Linked DNA regions of Homo sapiens: region 2 is linked to region 1. A link means that fine-mapping ties the variant in region 1 to the expression of a gene that starts in the linked region. Tissue or cell type: whole blood. Region 1 holds a variant in brackets; the other region holds the start of a gene. All regions are shown on one strand. Distances are from middle to middle. Region 1 holds the start of LOC105377340 (a long non-coding RNA gene). Region 2 holds the start of RAP1GDS1 (Rap1 GTPase-GDP dissociation stimulator 1).

Region 1 (8,560 bases):
ACCCTCCTATGGTTTTCCATTTTATCCAAAGTAATGTTCATAGTTCTTACTGTGTTCTACAAGACCCTAAAAGACTGGCTCCTGACGTCCTCTCTGACCTTATCTTTCAATCCCACTCCTTTTCCCTCTGCTCCAACTATACTGGTTTTCTCACTATTCATCAAGCATGTCAGACATGTTCATGTCTCAGGTTCTTTGCTTTTGATGTTCCCTCCGCCTGGAATTCTTTTCCCTCTGTAGCAGCGTGGCTCACTCACTTCAGCTCACTGCTTGGTGCCAACTTTTCAGAGAGCTCTTACCTTACCATCCCACTGAAAGTTGCCTATGCCTCCCTCATTCTGTCTCTTCTCACCCACCTTTATTCTTCTTCATAACACTCTACCTGAAATGTTATCCATATATCAGTGGTTGTCAACAGGGGAGAGAGGTATTTGGCAATATCTAAAAATATGTTTGGTTTTCACAAGTGGGGAGGGTGATTGCTACCATGGGCATCTAGTGGGTAGAGACCAGGGATGCTGTTAAACATCCTACAATGCACAGGACAGCCTCTCACACAAAGAATTATCCATTCTTAAATGTCAATACTGCAGAGGTTGAGAAACTCTGCTATACATTCTTATTGGTTTATTGTCTGCCTACACTCTGCCAGCAGTGACGATACCTAAAATATTTAACAACTAAAAGGGGTGTGGGCATTGACCAATAAGAGTAAGCACAAGTCATAAGCAACTAGTATGGCTATACAAGTATTCACCAGCTAACTGTTAGCCTTCCTACTAGAATTAAGACTCATGAAGGAGACTTTTTCTGTGCCTGCCTCATTTCTTAGTGAAGTAAGTATTTTAAATTGATCTACAGGTCTATAGACCATGCCATTTATTTTGTCTATTTGATTGCCTTTTTTCTTATTGATTAGCAAGTCTTATTTGTATATTAAAGAAATTAAGATTTTATTGTCATATGTTGCAAATAATGTTTTCTTCAGGTGGTTTGTTGTATTTTGTCTTTGTAGTAAGATTCTCTTTTTCTTACAGGCACTTAGTCTTACAGGAGATCTTAGTTTTTATGCAGTCAAATGTAAACTATTCCTTAGTGACTTCGGATTTTCAGTCTTCCTGTTAAAAGCCTCCTAGTCTAAGGTTGTAAAAAAAAAATTCTCTGTTTTTTCTTTAAGTTCTCTTATTATTTCATTTTTACAATCAAATATTTACATATCTGGGATTCATGCCCAGTTTTTCAATATTGGTCTGTTGAACAACTGATTTTCTCTCAGTAATTTAAGGAGATATATTTATTAATGCACTGAATTCCTATTTGTTTTTGGGCTTACTTCTGAATGCTTTAGTTTCACAAATCTGCCTGTTCTTTGGCTATTAATAACATTCATTAATATTAAAGCTCTACACATATTAATACCTGATAGAAATATTTTCCCCATATTAATTTTCTTTTTAAGAAATTTTCTGTCTTTATTCACACATTTATTTTTATAGGTGAGCTCTAGTATTATTTTTGCAAATCAAAAAATAAAAGAAGACAACTCTTTGGAATTTTGTTAGGGATTACACTGAATCAACTTATTAAACTTTGGGAGAATTTTCATGTTTATAAGATTGGTCTTTCTATACCAGATCAAAGCATATCTCCATTTATTTAAAGTTTTAAAAATTCCCTAATTTTTTCTCCAAGTAGATTCTCAGTTTTTACTCCTAAGTATTTTAATTATGAAATCTGATTTTGTAAATGGGATGCTTTCTTTCATTTTATTTTCCAACACATTTTTGTCCAGAGGGTTTTTTTTTTCTTTTTTTTTAAACTGGGTACCAGGCACATATGGAATAGAAGTGTGAAACTGATTTAAAAGCACAGAGTTAAGACATCAGTTTACGTTTCTGGCTATATTTGATTTTTTTTTTGGGTCTAGATCTCATCTTACTTCCCAGTTCCCCATTCCAAAACTAAGAATGCCTTATCTTACCATTCAGCCAATCTTGTATCTCAGCATCTTTCCCAGTTAGCCAACTTCCTACTGGCCACCGAAATACTTTGAGACTTGTAAAACAGGCTACATTGTTGTGTTTTGGGTTTTTTTTTTTTTTTTTTTTTTTTTTTTTGAGACGCAGTTTCGCTCTTGTTGCCCAGGCTGGAGTGCGATGGCGTGATCTTGGATCAACGCAACCTCCACCTGCCAGTTGCAAGCGATTCTCCTGTCTCTGCCTCCCGAGTAGCTGGGATTACAGGAATGCGCCACCATGCCCGGCTAATTTTATATTTTTAGTAGAGATGCGGTTTCTCCGTGTTGGTCAGGCTGGTCCCGAACTCCTGACCTCAGGTGATCCACCCACCTTGGCTTCCCAAACTGCTGGGATTACAGGCGTGAGCCACTGCCCCTGGCCAAACCAGGCTACATTGTAAATCTACATACTGATTTCTATGTTTTAATTCATTTTGTTTTCTAATACTTTGAGTTATGTGGATTTTTAAAAAATAAATTAACTCTATTTTTCTGCTCAATTTTTATGCTCCCACGGAATCAACAGAACTCTTATCTAAGTTTTGCAATATACGCAGCTTATACTCAGAGACACAAGAATACAGGGAGTCTGCCGAAACTCTAAAACTGAGCAGATCTGGAAACCACAACTTTTATTTACCAGTTTGGTCTATATCTATTAGCAATCTCATTCTTGTATTTGCAGAAACGTCAATGTCTGCCTACTGTGGCCTCCCCACAAAAAACTATTCATAAAAAGAAGTGAAGAAAGAGAACTGAAAATTATATGAAGGCCTTTAGCATCAGAGGTTTTCTGTTATTGTACTTGGTTTTTCTACCAAGCACTTGTTTTGCAGTCTAAGGAACGCCTATTTATTACTGCTGCAATGATATCCTTTCTTTGTTCAGATCTCTTCAGCACTGTACAGTTATACCATAGTTTGGTTTCAAGTTTATACAGACACACGTTTAGCCTTGGATCTCCAAAACTGACTATGTGCTAGTTTCTTAGGAATTGAAGTAGCTTAGGAACTTCTCACTTCTCACATGTGCTTTAACCAAAACTGCTTATTCTAGATGGCTAGGTTCGTGAGTTGGATGGGTCTTAAGCCCAAAGCACTGAGGGAGACTTCTATTTCAAAACCTTTGATGCCATTTTCCAATTAAAAATCTTGAGCAGAACCACCTCAATCTGTCAGAAATTTTCTAACGACGTTAAACCTCAAAAGGGAAGTTAGTTGTTCAGATCTTCACTCATTTTTTTCTCCAAGTGGCTCCTTCATTAGTATGCAAATTTTCCACACCCTACCCTAGAGGCAAGCTCTGCATACCAAGAAATCTTGACAAACATCAGGTTATGAGACTTCCCCCCAAGAGAACAGGTGCCTAACATCTTACACAACTAAGAGCAAAAGAGAGAAAATCTCCAAGAGGATAGGCTACAGGTACGTAAAGCAGTACATGCTGCCAGCTTGTCACTCAGCGTTCTAAATTCAGCCTCACTTGGAACTCTATTACACATGCAGGCCATCAAAAATCAGAGCAGGCCAGACGGAGATGAGAGTTTCGAGAGAGAGAAATGGAAAT[C/G]TGTGGAGGTAATTGCCTAAAACTTCTCTTGGTGCTTTCACTTTGTCTTTATGGTGTGTGGGAGGATCAGCCAGGTGTAAAAGATGACAGACAGAAGGGACACTATGAAACTGTAATGGGCCTAGTGCTCAAGTTTTTAAAACAGTCCACATAAGCTCTGTTATGGTTAGAATACAAATGCCACCTTTTTTTAGCATTAACATAATTATATTCTAACTCCACATGTTGTTTTAGGCATCTCATTTACCAACATACTTGGACATCAGATAGGCATAAATTAAAGTATATAATTTGTAGTGCATAAAAATCACAGAAATGCTTATTGATTCCTAAATTAGGATAACATATTTTCACTGGTGCAGTCTTTTTATCAATAAATCGTAATTGAATTTCCAAGTTAGAGCCTGCAGGGCAAATGTGCTCTAGTTTTTTTAGGTTTCCAGAGACACTGAGCCTAAACATGAATATTCCCTCACTAAATGTAACTGGATCACTTTGCAAGAAAGATGCTTCAATTCTCTTAATTTATTCAAATGAATATCATTCATATATTCTAAGTCCAAGATTTTCAACTACTCTGTAAATGTAATTAGCTTTTCTTATAAGCTATATTCCAACCAGTAGAATATTATTGAATATTATTGTTTCTCCTTTAAATGCATTCTCAAATTTCAGTCCTATTTTTAGTACAGTCACACATTAAACCTTTACCTGTGTGTTATAAATAAAGTTTCGGTGCCGCAAAAGAAATAGCACTTGAATATAAAATTTTCTTTTAATTCTCAGCAAGGCAAGGTACTTCTATAGAAGGGTGCACCCTTACAGATGGAGCAATGGTGAGCGCACACTTGGACAAGGGAGGGAAGGGGTTCTTATGCCTGACGCATGTGGCCCCTGCTGCTGTGTCATTCCCCTATTGGCTCGGGTTAGGCCGCACAGGCTAAACTAATTCCAACTGGCTAATTTAAAGACAGTGATGGGGTGCATGGTTTGGCGGGAAAAACGGTTATGCAGAGTAGAGAATGAGTTAGGGCAGAGCAGGTAGCAGGTAATCGGAATGAGTCAAGGTGGGGCAGGTGATTGAAATGAGTCAGGGTGGAGCAGGTAATCAAAAAAGGTTGCTTTATGTGGAAGTTAAGTTTAAAAGTAGAAGGCAAAGAACTGAACATACTGATATATTGATTCTTTGAAAAGAAATTTAGAACTCATATCTAACATGTGGGATAAATAAAAATTAAAAAAAAAATTTAAATGACTATTCCCTTTAGGGAATTTTGCCAACATTTTTTAGAAAATAAAAAACATATGCCAAATACATTAATGGCATAGAAAGCCATTGGAATAATACCAACATTTAAAAAGTAATATTCAGTATTTTAACATTTTGACTAGAAGAAAACAATGGTTGATGCAGTCACTTTGGAATTTTAGTTTTAAATGCCTCTTTTTATGGGAAATATTCAAGGTTAATATATAATATTCTTAAAATTGTGCTTCCATTAATATGGTCTATTTTCATTGTATTTCCTCAAAAACAGACCCTGAAACAAGAGCTTAGGTGCAGATGGTATATTCAGGAGATAATTCCTCATGGCAGGCAAATTGAGGAAACCAAACCAAGATAGAGAAGCAGGGAAAGCCAATAAAAAGTGCATGAATGAGCAAAGTACAGTAGTGGGCAACTGGGGCTTAATTTTGTTGGGATCCCCAGAGAAAGTGTGTATGCCATATATGGAAATAAATGAAGACCAAATGAGAACAGACAAAGCATATATTCAGACCTTGATATAGCAAGAGAGTCAGGCATCATCACTTGTGTTTTGGTAGAGACTCATCACTTGTGTTTGGTAGAGGCAGGCATAGGAGTGGAAAGCTTTATAGTGGTAAAAAGAGAAGGTTTCAGGTATGCCCTGATTTGAAGCTGTTGGCTTAAGAAAGCTATAGGTAGGCTAAACAGATTTGGGGCTTTCTGTGTGATTGATTGGGGTGCATATTTGGCTTTCTCTGGCTGGTCCTAATTTGGAAGCTGGGACAAAAATTAGGGAAGCTGTCAGTTATTAATCGAGTCCTGGCCATTTTGGGCCAATTGTTATAGGGATTATTGCTTGACTTACTGGACTGATTTCTGGAGATAGTGGTCTGACTTCCTACAAATCTGACTTACAGATAATATCCTAGCTTTCTGTAGATATGGTATGATTTCCTAGGGTGCTTGCTACAGATTGTAGGTCAGAGTTCTATTTTCATATATGGTCTGGCCATTGTCTATATATATATATAGAGAGAGAGAGAGAGAGAGTCTCTCAAATGCTTTAAAACTGTCCTGTGGGAGGCTAGAAAGCTTGGGGCATTTATCCATCTACTTCAAACTCATATTGATTGTTGTTGCTTTGAGTGACTTGGGTGGAGCAGACTCCCACAGTTAGTCCCAGAAAAAACCCTAAGGCAGAGAAGAGACACACAACATTTGAGGTGGTAAGCTGTCAGCATGTTGAAACTGTCTCCTACAGGTGACCTATTCATAAGTTGATTACATCTGCACAGACCCTATTTTCTTTTTCTTTTTCTTTTTTTTTTTTTTGAGACAGAGTCTCACTCTGTCACCCAGGTTGGAGTGCAGTGGCACGATCTCAGCTTACTGCACCCTCTGCCTCCCAGGTTCAAGCAATTCTCCTGCCTCAGCCTCCCAAGCAGCTGGGACTACAGGTGCGCGCCACCACGCCCAGCTAATTTTCTTGTAGTTTTAGTAGAGACGGGGGTTTCACCATATTGGCCAGGCTGGTCTTGAACTCCTGACCTCATGATCCACCTGCCCTGACCTCCCAAAGTGCTGGGATTACAGGCATGAGCCACCGTGCCTGGCCTGACCCTATTTTCAAATAAGGACACATTCTGAAACTCCAGGTAGACATGAATTTTGGGGGAACACTATTCAACCCAGTCCAGGAGGTAAGAATTAACTTGCCCAAATATGATTCCCCTGTGGCCTCCAAAAAAAGAAAAGGAATTGACCTTCTACAAAGCTGTATGAAAACTGGCCACAGCCAAACATCGAGGCAGTGAATCCTGGTCAACCATAAGACCTGCCCTTAGGCTCCTGATTATGCCAGGGGAAGGGCTCATGTTTGCTGCAAATATGAAAGCTGAGTTCACAGACTAGGGCTGGAGCCAAAGTTTTGCAATGTCATCTTGTTATAGTATCCTGGTCCCTGATCGCCTGAGAGTAGGAGACAATGCTTCCAAACAGGCAAAAGTCCGCACACCGGGGATTAGGGGCCCTATCCCAGAATGTGACATTAGACCATGCTAGCACTCTGTGTTCCACTTTACAATGCAACAGGGGACTGCATGCTTGTTACTGCTCCTGTCTTCATGAATTTTCCCCAGTAAATTTTGCTCTAGCAGATCTGGTATGTGTACTGACTGGCCATTGGTCCTTTTTTGCATAACAATATCTTATTTTGTTTAATTGCAACATCACTCTCTGAGATAAATATATAGTGATCACTTTTTTTTTTTTTTTTTTTTTTTTTTTTTTGAGATGGAGTCTGGCTCTGTCGCCCAGGCTGGAGTGCAGTGGCGTGACCTCGGCTCACTGCAAGCTCCGCCTCCCGGGTTCACGTCATTCTCCTGCCTCAGCCTCCCGAGTAGCTGGGACTACAGGCGCCTGCCACCACGCCTGGCTAATTTTTTCTATTTTTAGTAGAGATGGGGTTTCACCGTGTTAGCCAGGATGGTCTCGATCTCCTGACCTTGTGATCCACCTGCCTCGGCCTCCCAAAGTGCTGGGATTACAGCTGTGAGCCACCACGCCCGGCCTCATCACTGTTAATATTACTTAACTGAAGCAAACTCTCTTTAGCCGATGAAGCAGAAAAGGGAGTTTTGAAAAAAAGACTATTGGTTAGCTCACAGAAGCATTTGGAGGCCTGGAGAGCTAGACTTGAAGTTAAGCTCCTAGGAACAATTCTGAAAATCACATGGCAAAGTTGGCGCGGAGAGGAAACTGCTGCTTCTCTTGCTGTCCCACAGAGCACTAGGGAAGGTGTTGCCAACTCTCAACTCCCTGCCTGGGCCACATCTGTGCCTGGAACTTGACCTTGAAATCACTGAGAAACTAAACTGCATACAGTGTTGTTGCTACCACCACAAGACGGCAGCATTGTTGTCCACTGTACCAGAAAAATGGATTCTGACTGGAGCCTTCTTCTTGTATGCAAGATTTTAAAACAGTCCACATAAACTCCGTTACTTACCTGTCAAATTCTTACATGTGTGAATCTCACAGGAGAAGTCAAAGTCACTGTCATATTCCTAGGCCCAGCAGTAAGAGAGGCTGAGAATTCAGTTTTCTGCATTCTACTTTGTGGAAGCGGGACTCTAAAGACTGAGGATTTTCCAGTATGGTAAAATTGTTTTCAAAATATGCTGGGTAGTCAGAAAACATGACAAATATCCGTGTCCAATATAGTAAGCAACTTTATTTTACCTGTGAGGCATCTGAAAATCAGGAAATTTCAATAACATGTCTAAAATGTTACACAGCTAGAAAGGGTAGAGTCAGGCTATAAATCCAGGTCTGTCTGACCTTAAATCTCGCATTCTTATTCGTTGCTTTTTTGGTCCAAACCAAAAACATATAGACAGGTATACATCCTCATACATGGAATTTTCAAATAAGAACAGTTCTGTTATTATTACCAGAGTATTGACAGTGTTGTTCTAATGGGAATTCGTAGTGTGCCTCTGCTTTTTGTGCGGGTTTTTTTTTTTTTTTTTTTTTTTTTGGTGAGGGGAGAGGGGAGTCTGCTCATAATCCCTTCTTTATTCTTCTGGTAATAGCAACTCTTCCTTTGGAAAGCCATCCCTCTCCAAATACATATAGACCCAGTGGGACCGTTGTCACAGCATTCTCATTACATCCTTCAGGAGTGGTCATGCAGATTAGGCTGTCTGACCATCAACATCACCCCCTTG
Region 2 (8,560 bases), 58 kb before region 1:
TATTTGTGGATAACTTCCAGATCTCTAATTCAAATTGTACTCTCGAAAGTTAAAATAAATGTTTGTCAACTATTTTTTATCTAGTTTCAGTCAGTCAACACAATTTTTCTATGTAGCTACTATGTGCCAGACACTAGTGTTAGAAATGTATTCAAATCCTAATATGACAACGTCCTTGTTATCAAGGAGCAGAGACTAAAGGACAGACCAAAAAGTCTAATGCAATAGGTCCAAAATTGAGTATCTAAGTTTCCTCTTCCTGTTAACTGAATATGTATCAGGAGATTCTCGTATCCTCATTATCACCCAGGCTAAAACCTGTGACTCTCAATTCCATACTCAATGGGTTGCCAAGTAAATCCTATTCTTTATTTGCAATATTCTATTCCCGTTGCCATAACCTGGTTCAAGCCATTAAACATTTTCGTCCAAACTCCAACAACAATCTTCTGAAGTGTTCTGTAGTTTCTCATCTAATCGATCCTGCACTCAACTGACAAATTTTCCTATACCACAGATGTGATCCATCACTTAACTACATAAAAATGTTTAGTGGTCTCTCAATAGGTAAGTCAGATTAAAATTCTTCAGCTTGGCATTTTAGATCCTACATTATCTGGTCATTAGCTATTACTGTACTACTTTTTCATGTCTGTTACCCACTATTTCCTTACCTTTTGCTCTAGCCAAACAATGCTGTTTAATCATATCCTGGAAATTCATAAAATGTTTCCTATCTATCTTCATTTATGTCATTTCTCTTCCAACCCCAGACCAACTCCATTCTGATTAACAGTCTCATTTCTACCTTTAAGAAGTTTAACCCACCTTTGGTTCAAATAACACCATTTCTCTAAAACGTTCTCTCCATTCTCTGAATCTATAATATATGTAAAGGTCTTTTATATAACTTATACTTTTACTTCTATTATAATTTGTGTATGTGTCATATTGTTCCTGCTAAGATTATAAATGTGAAACATGAATATCTTTTTATCTTTGTCCTCCCAGTACACTGTAGTACAGTACACTGCACAGTTGATATCCAACAAACACTAAATGTATGTTGAATCTGAAATATGACATATACATAAAATAGTAGCTATGGCCATAAAGTTATATAGGACTTTTCTTTCACTCTCTTGTGTAGGAAATTATTGCCATGAGAATATATATATATATTTTTTTTGAGACAGAGTTTCCCTCTTGTTGCCCAGGCTGGAGTGCAATGGCATGATCTCGGCTCACTGCAAACTCCGCCTCCCGGGTTCAAGTGATTCTCCTGCCTCAGCCTCCCAAACAGCTGGGATTACAGGCGCCCGCCACCACACCCGGCTAATTGTTTTTTTGTATTTTTAGTAGAGACAGGGTTTTACCATGTTAGTCAGGCTGGTCTCCAACTCCTGACCTCAGGTGATCCGCCCGCCTCGGCCTCCCAAAGTGCGCGCCCGGCTGAGACTATCTTTAAAAATCAACCTTATTTATTTCTTGAGACAAATTAAAAAGCACTTCTCCCTCCCCTCATCATTAACCAGTATACCTTCTACCTTCTTATGTGTACATGAATTGTTATACTAACTTCCTTGGCCCAGATATAAAACTGTTCCCCAAGGTTTCAATTTTAAATTATCATATGTACCTACTGATCATACATGAAACTGCCTTACCATTGAAGAGAGTTTAGAAGGAAACAGATTGCCTGAGGTTGACTCAAAACCAACCTACAGTGTACTGGGAGGCATGGTACAATTATACCTTTCTGTTTCTGCTTATCCCCCAACTAGATAATATGTACCAACCCAAATGTTTGTTCAGATGAAGACTATATCTTCAGGTTCAAAAGTTGAAAATAATAGGTGGCTTTAAGTTCAACAATTTGCCAAAGATTTACTGAATTTCTATTTGAAAAGCACTGTGGGGAACACAAAAAATAATAAGACACTTTTCATCTTCTGGGACTCATGATTAAATGCACAGCACACACATAAACAACTTTATTATATGGTAGATTACGTAAGTGCTAAAAAGCTTCTAACAAGGTACAAACAGTGCTTATGAAGAGACAGATTAACCAAAGAGTATCAGAGATGGCTTCAAAATGAGAGATAGGTTTCTATTTGGCCCTTTTTAAAAATCAAGCAATAGCACTCAAGATTTTGAAGATTATTTTTAAGTAGATAATTTCTTTTAGGTATTTTTATTCACCAGTGTTGTAACGGAATTGGATTTTTTCCACTGAAAAAGTACGGATTTAACATGTAAGCTAAAATGTTAAATGGATTGTTTAAGGCTCACCTGGAAACATGGGAAAATATATTTTGCAAGCCAAACTTGAACTTACAGTCCAATATCAGATAGGGTTATTGGACATACTGTATATTTCCTTTGAACATACACACACTTATCTGTGTATGTATGTTCAAAGGAATTTTATTTCAAAGTGTATTTTATCTGTGTATGTTCAAAGGGAACACACATAAACGTGTGTATGTTCGACGGAAATATACAGCTTGTCCAATAATCTGATATAATACCTATTTAAAAATCTACTTTAAGAGAAAGGCAGACACGCATAAATGGGCCACCCAATTTTTACAGAAATTTGTTCAGCATATCGAGTACTCACGTTAAAAAGAAAAAACAACTGAAAATAAAATTCAGAGCCCTAGACCTTTTTTGATTCATACCACCTCCTCCGTCAACCCTGGCCTCTTCCAGATATATGGCCAAAGGTCGGGATCAAAGCCTGAAGCATTTGCTGTTCCAGAAAACTCTATGGACACCATTCCCAGGTTTAGATACTTCTTGAAGATTCTGAGTTGCACCACCTAACTCTGAACGTGTTGAGCACTGTATTAACAGATGAAAGGACCACATTCATCTCAAGCTTTAAATAACTCGCACAGAAGGGGTGGGAAAAGTCCCAGCTGACAGATGCCAAGGGAGCAAATTTTAAAAAGAGGAAATTATGACAGACAGGAGTGGAAGCAAACTGGGGAACTTAGTACAAGTCGCTACTATTAAAAGAAACTTTGAGCTCTTAATTACATGACAGCATTCATCAGACGTTTCTGTGATTACTGAATGTAACAGTTAAGCAATAGATGATGTAAAAAAATTAGGTCAAATGTATATATCGTTTTATAAAACATATTTGCTCTTAAATCTCTCATCCAAACCAATCTCTTCAGATTAACTATAAATACAAAGGAACTAAAATCAGATTATGCAGATTAGACAGGAGGAAGCTGGGAAAGAATAACTACCATGTAAGTTCGGTAACAACGTTACAGGGCGCAGTTTCCTGCTACAGAAGACGGACGAAGGAATCCAGAAAATAGGCTGGGCACGGGAATATTGCACACTGTAGTCACCCAGCACTAATTCAACAGCTAGCGGCTCTATCCTGCCTCACGTTCCTCGTGGCCTCTGACAAGTCATCCTTTCAACCTATGAGGCTGTCCGCTCTCCCCCTTGGAAAATAATTTCCGTGCAGGTTGTAAGATCTCCCTCACAAACTACTTGCTTCCACTTCCCCGCCCGGGATGAGGAGTCTCCACGACGGGGAAAGGTCGCACTGACAGAGAAGGAAGTTACACGAAGTGGTAGTGGTCGGACCCGAGCCTCGAGCTCAGTACACGCGGGGGAAAAGGAAGCGGGCGGCCTCTGGAGAAACGGGGATGGAGCTGCAGATGCGAGCCCGCGAGGCAGGCTCCGTGGTGCCCGGGCACCGGCAGGAAGAATGGAGGAGGGGAGGCGAGGCTGCGAGGTGCCGGGGAGCCGGGCGGCGGTCCGGCCCGCGGCCGACCCCACCCCAGCCCGCGCTCGGGACCCTCCCAGCCCCGGCACCCGGCGTGCGTTCCGCGTGCGCCGACTCTCCCCGGAGGAACAGCCACCGTCTCACACCCGGGGACTGGAGAAATCCGGCAACTTTGCGCGAGAAATGCTTCCCACCCTGCAGCACGCCGAGAAAGAAAAAAATGTCAGGCGATGACGGCGGAGGAAGGATGACTTACCCATGTTGCTCCCCGAGGGTGAGGAACCGGCGGGGCGAGGCGAAGGTCTGTGGTGCGGGCGGCGCGGCTCTGTGTCCTCCCTCTACCTCCGTCTCTCCCGCAGCCAGGGAGGGACCCGCGGGGGGCGGCCGCCGGGGAGGAGCAGCTGGTGCTGCTGCAGGCGGCGCGGCCGCGGCGGGGACGAGCGGCGGGGGGCGGGGCGGGGCGGGGCGGGGCGGGACTGGCGGGCGCAGCCTGCGGCGGGCGCGGCTCCGAGCGGGCGGGCGGCGGAGGCGCGGGAGCCGGCCTGAAGAGCTCCGGCCCCGACTCGCAGCCCACGAGCGCCCCGCCCTCCCCACCGAGCATGCTCAGTGCCTTTTCCACCCCTCCCTCTGTGGCGAGCGAGGCTAAGCGTGCGGGTGGGCGTGTGTTTGCAGACCGGCTGCAGCCGCGGCAGAGGATCTTCATGGCGGCCGCCTGAGAGGCGGAGGGCGGGCCCGGAGAAAACAGGGAATGGGGATATTGAGCCCGATCTGCTAGCAGAGGACTCACCGCTGCCTTGCTTTCCCACCCTGACCCACCAACCCCTCACCCGGAACCCGGGCTTGCCTTCTTTACGGGACGACCGGGCCGCACAGGCCGGAATTAACCGGAGAAGAGGCTGGGCCGCCGCAGAGCCGGGAGGGGTGGTGGGAAGCCAGAGCTGACGAAGTTGGAAAGGACGTGTAGGCGACTAGGCCTGCGCCTCTTGGGGACACCTGAGGACGCCCGCTGGGCAGCTGGCTGAGGAGGGGCCGCCGGGAGGGCGCTCGATAGCAGGCGTGTCATTGGGACACTTAAGGCTGCTCTAGCTGTGGCCAGCTTAGAAACAAAGGTCCCGGCAGCGAGGAGAGCGCCCGCCCCAGGATTTCCTCGAAGAGTGTGTCGTTCTCCCTCCCGGAGGAGCGCGGCCTTCCGTTCCCCGGAGGGCTCTGGAAAGGCCCTTTAACCGGGGTGCCGTCGGGCTCCATCCTGCTGTGAAAGCGGGAGGAACTACGTTCCCCAGGCTTGAAAATAAGCGTCCTGCTGGGTTGGCTGCGGCACTGCCAAAGCTAACCCGGCGGAGGTCCTTTGATCCCGGGGCCACCGCCCGCTCCCACCACCACCTCGGCCTCGGGGAGAACCTGAGCAGGGCTCTCCCACTGAGGGCGTCCTCCCGACTGGGCATGCACGTGAGGCCGGGGCTGGCTTCGGTCCTCTTCCCTGGGGTAGGAGGCTGGAGGAAACCGATTTCTCTGCACCCTAATCTTGCCCTGGCTCCTCCTGAGTGGGGTGAGGAATCTGGTCGCTCTCCAAGGCTACAGCGACCGGAGTCCTTCAGGGGACACTGTGCAGTCAGCAGTACAACCTGTTGGAGAAAGATGGCTGAATCGAGGTGTCTTTCCCCTGTCAACTTTCACTCGGTCAATCCAATGTTGAGAAAGGGCTTTTTTTGTTTGTTTGTTAATTAGTCGCCTATTCTCACAGTCATCAGTTTCTGCTTGGTGACTAGTATTTCGAGCACACAAATCAGAAGCGACCCTGTAATTTGTTAAGCAAAGAGCAGATTTTATGTGATTTTTCTACAGCAAGAAACGATAATTAAAAAGGTTTGGTAAAACAGGAAAATACAATTTAACTGCTGAAGTCAAATATATGGGACTTTTCTGATGCATGAGACTATCAGGCACCTCACTCTTAGGATGTTCTTCTTGTTTGCCTCTTAAAATAATCGCACTACATTAGTTCCCTAGGGCTGCCGTAACATACCACAAATTGGGTGACTTAAAACAACAAATTATTATCTCACAATTCTGGAGGCCAGAAGTTTGAAATCAAGGTGTAGGCAGGGCTGTACTCCCTCTGAGGGCACTGGGGAGGGATCTCGTCCATGCCTCTCCTAGCTTCTGGTAGTTTCTTGGCATATGGTAGCGTAACTCCAATCTGAACATGGCTGTTCTCCCAGTGTGCTTGTGTGTTCAAATTTCCCTTTTTAATAAGAACAGCAGTCATAACGGATTAGGGGCGAACCATCCTCCAGTATGACCTCATGGACGTTAATTATATCTGCAATGACCCTATTTCCAAATCAGGTCACATTCTAAGGGACTAAGGGTTAGGACTTCTACATATGAATAGGGCCAGCCTGGCCAACATGACGAAACCCCATCTCTAACTAAAAATACAAAAAATTAGCCAGGGCCAGGCACAGTGGCTCACGCCTGTAATCCTAACACTTTGGGAGGCTCAGGAGGGCAGATCACTTAAGTCAGGAGCTGGAGATCAGCCTGGCCAACATGGCAAAACCCTATTTCTACTAAAAAATAAATAAAATAAATAAATTAGCTGGGCATGGTGGCACGTGTCTGTAATCCCAGCTACTTGGGAGGCTGAGGCAGGAGAATCGCTTGAACCCGGGAGGCGGAGGTTGCAGTGAGCTGAGATTGCACCACTGCACTCCAGCCTGGGCCACAGAGCAAGACCCTGTCTCAAAAAAAATAAAAATAAAAAAAAAGAATCCGGGAGGGGTACACAATTCAACCCATAATACACCAATGCAGACCCCACCCTCAGGGCCCCTCACTGCCCCCACATCGGCCATGTTACACATTAATTTTATTACTCCTCCAGAAGACCAGCCTGGGCCTTTGCATTGCTGCTCATCATTTTTTGTTCATCTCTCCTTAACACTCATTAATCTCTTCCAGATTGTCAAGTTAACTTGCTTTATTTTTCCTACTTCCTTATCTAATTACATATTATAATAATTTCATGGAGTATCTTCTATCATTTATTTGGATGTAAGCGTTGAAATTAGCAAAAGCAGCTGAAGTGGCTTTCTCATTTCCCATCTGACACTAGTTAAAGTGCCTTTTTTGTTCTACTTCAATCTACAAGCCATCTCCTTAGCCTTCCTGCCAATTAAAACCAAAGGATTGTTCAGGCTTAGTGCATATACTGAGTCCTAATGCACCGGTGTTGTAACCATAGTGAGAACCAATACTGATTGTTATATGCAGAAGTGAATTACTTCCAGACTGGTATATTGCCTACTCCTTGCACACACAATGCCACCTCCCTTCCCCTCTCCTTTCTTGTTCTATTATAAGAATATAATGTTTCTGTCTCATATCTTTACTTTCTTCCTTTATGTCTTTATTCAAAAGTTACCTGCATGATGTCTTCCCTAGTTATCTTATCTAAAATTTCAACACTCCTTCCCATTTCATATCCCCACTTCTATACTTTATTTTTTTTCCTTAGCAGTTATCAATAAGATAATATATATTTTGCTTTTGGACTGTCTCCCACATTTAAATGTAAGTTCTCCTAGGGAAATAATTTTTGTCTGCTGTATTTACCATTATAACCCCCGTGCCTAAATAGTGCTAGCACATAGCAAGTGCTTAATAAAAATTTGCTAGGTATGGTGGCTCACACCTATAATTCCAGCACTTAGGGAGGCCGAGGAGGGAGGATCACTTGAGGTCAGGATTCTGAGAGCAGCCAGTACAAGATAGCAACACCTTATATCTACATCTCTTGACATCCCTGATGTCAAGAGACTCTTCCAAAATCGATCTACTAATACCCATACTGTATGTTAGGCAATGGTCAGGATTTTATCAGGCCTGCTACAAAACAAAGGAAGTTCTGGCCCAGTGCAAAGGTTTTCAACTTCAATCTAGGAAATGTCATATTTATAAAGTATCACGGATTTATTTGAATAACAATTTCTGTTGAAAATTGGTTTATGATTACTAAATAGCTGTTATGGGGGAGTATCAAGGAAAATGTCTTTTAGAAAAGATCAGAAGCAGTACATTTTGGCAAGACTTATAACTTACCTCATTGATGCATGTAAGCTTAAAGAGGTTAGAAGGTGATTTAAATTCTTTAGAGGAAATCTATTGGGAGGGGCAACACAACAAGAAGTGGAAAGAGAGGAGAGAATGTTCTTTAAAAGTATAATAGGGAACTGATTGCCTCCTGTTCACCATGATGTTCTGAATATCATTTAAGGGAATTTCACTGGAGTAGTTAATTGAACTTTGCGGTGATAGAAAATGATTTGGCAGTGAACAGCCTTCTGCCTAAACTGTTTATTTTTCAGAGACTTCATTGGTGAGATCAAGTTAGTCCAGGTTGAACAACTGAAATGTCTTAACCTCAATGTAACCTCTTTCTCCCCCGCTCTCCATTTATTTAATATTTTAGCCATTTTCTAAATGTTGTAAAATCTAAATTATTTTCATAGGCTGTCACCTCAAACTAATGTCTACATGTTTCAAGCAACAACAGACCTAGATTACATACAGTTTTTAGATGGGATATACCACTTTAAAATCAGTCATGTAGTTATTGAACATTTCTTCTGAGCTCAGCACTGTGCTAGATGCTATAAAAGAACAGCTATAAGGGCCAGGCGCGGTGGCTCATGCCTGTAATCCCAGCACTTTGGGAGGCCGAAGCGGGTGGATTACGAGGTCAGGAGATCGAGACCATCCTGGCTAACATGGTGAAACCCCGTCTCTACTAAAAATACA

Evidence for each region.
Region 2: it holds the start of RAP1GDS1, and the variant in region 1 is fine-mapped to the expression of RAP1GDS1 in whole blood (TOPMed, PIP 0.99).

The regions. Positions count from the first base shown.
Region 1 is chr4:98,198,581-98,207,140 of GRCh38, reverse strand. LOC105377340 (a long non-coding RNA gene) reads left to right here and starts at 3,010. Exons shown (of 4, transcript XR_001741771.2): 1 at 3,010-3,441. RefSeq lists an enhancer at 2,370-3,091. The variant C/G (reference allele first, on the strand shown) is at 3,584.
Region 2 is chr4:98,257,026-98,265,585 of GRCh38, reverse strand. It overlaps RAP1GDS1 (Rap1 GTPase-GDP dissociation stimulator 1), which reads right to left and starts at 4,202. Exons shown (of 15, transcript NM_001100427.2): 1 at 4,017-4,202. The coding sequence starts at 4,020. RefSeq lists silencers at 3,912-3,981, 4,082-4,381 and enhancers at 4,348-4,910, 4,662-4,961.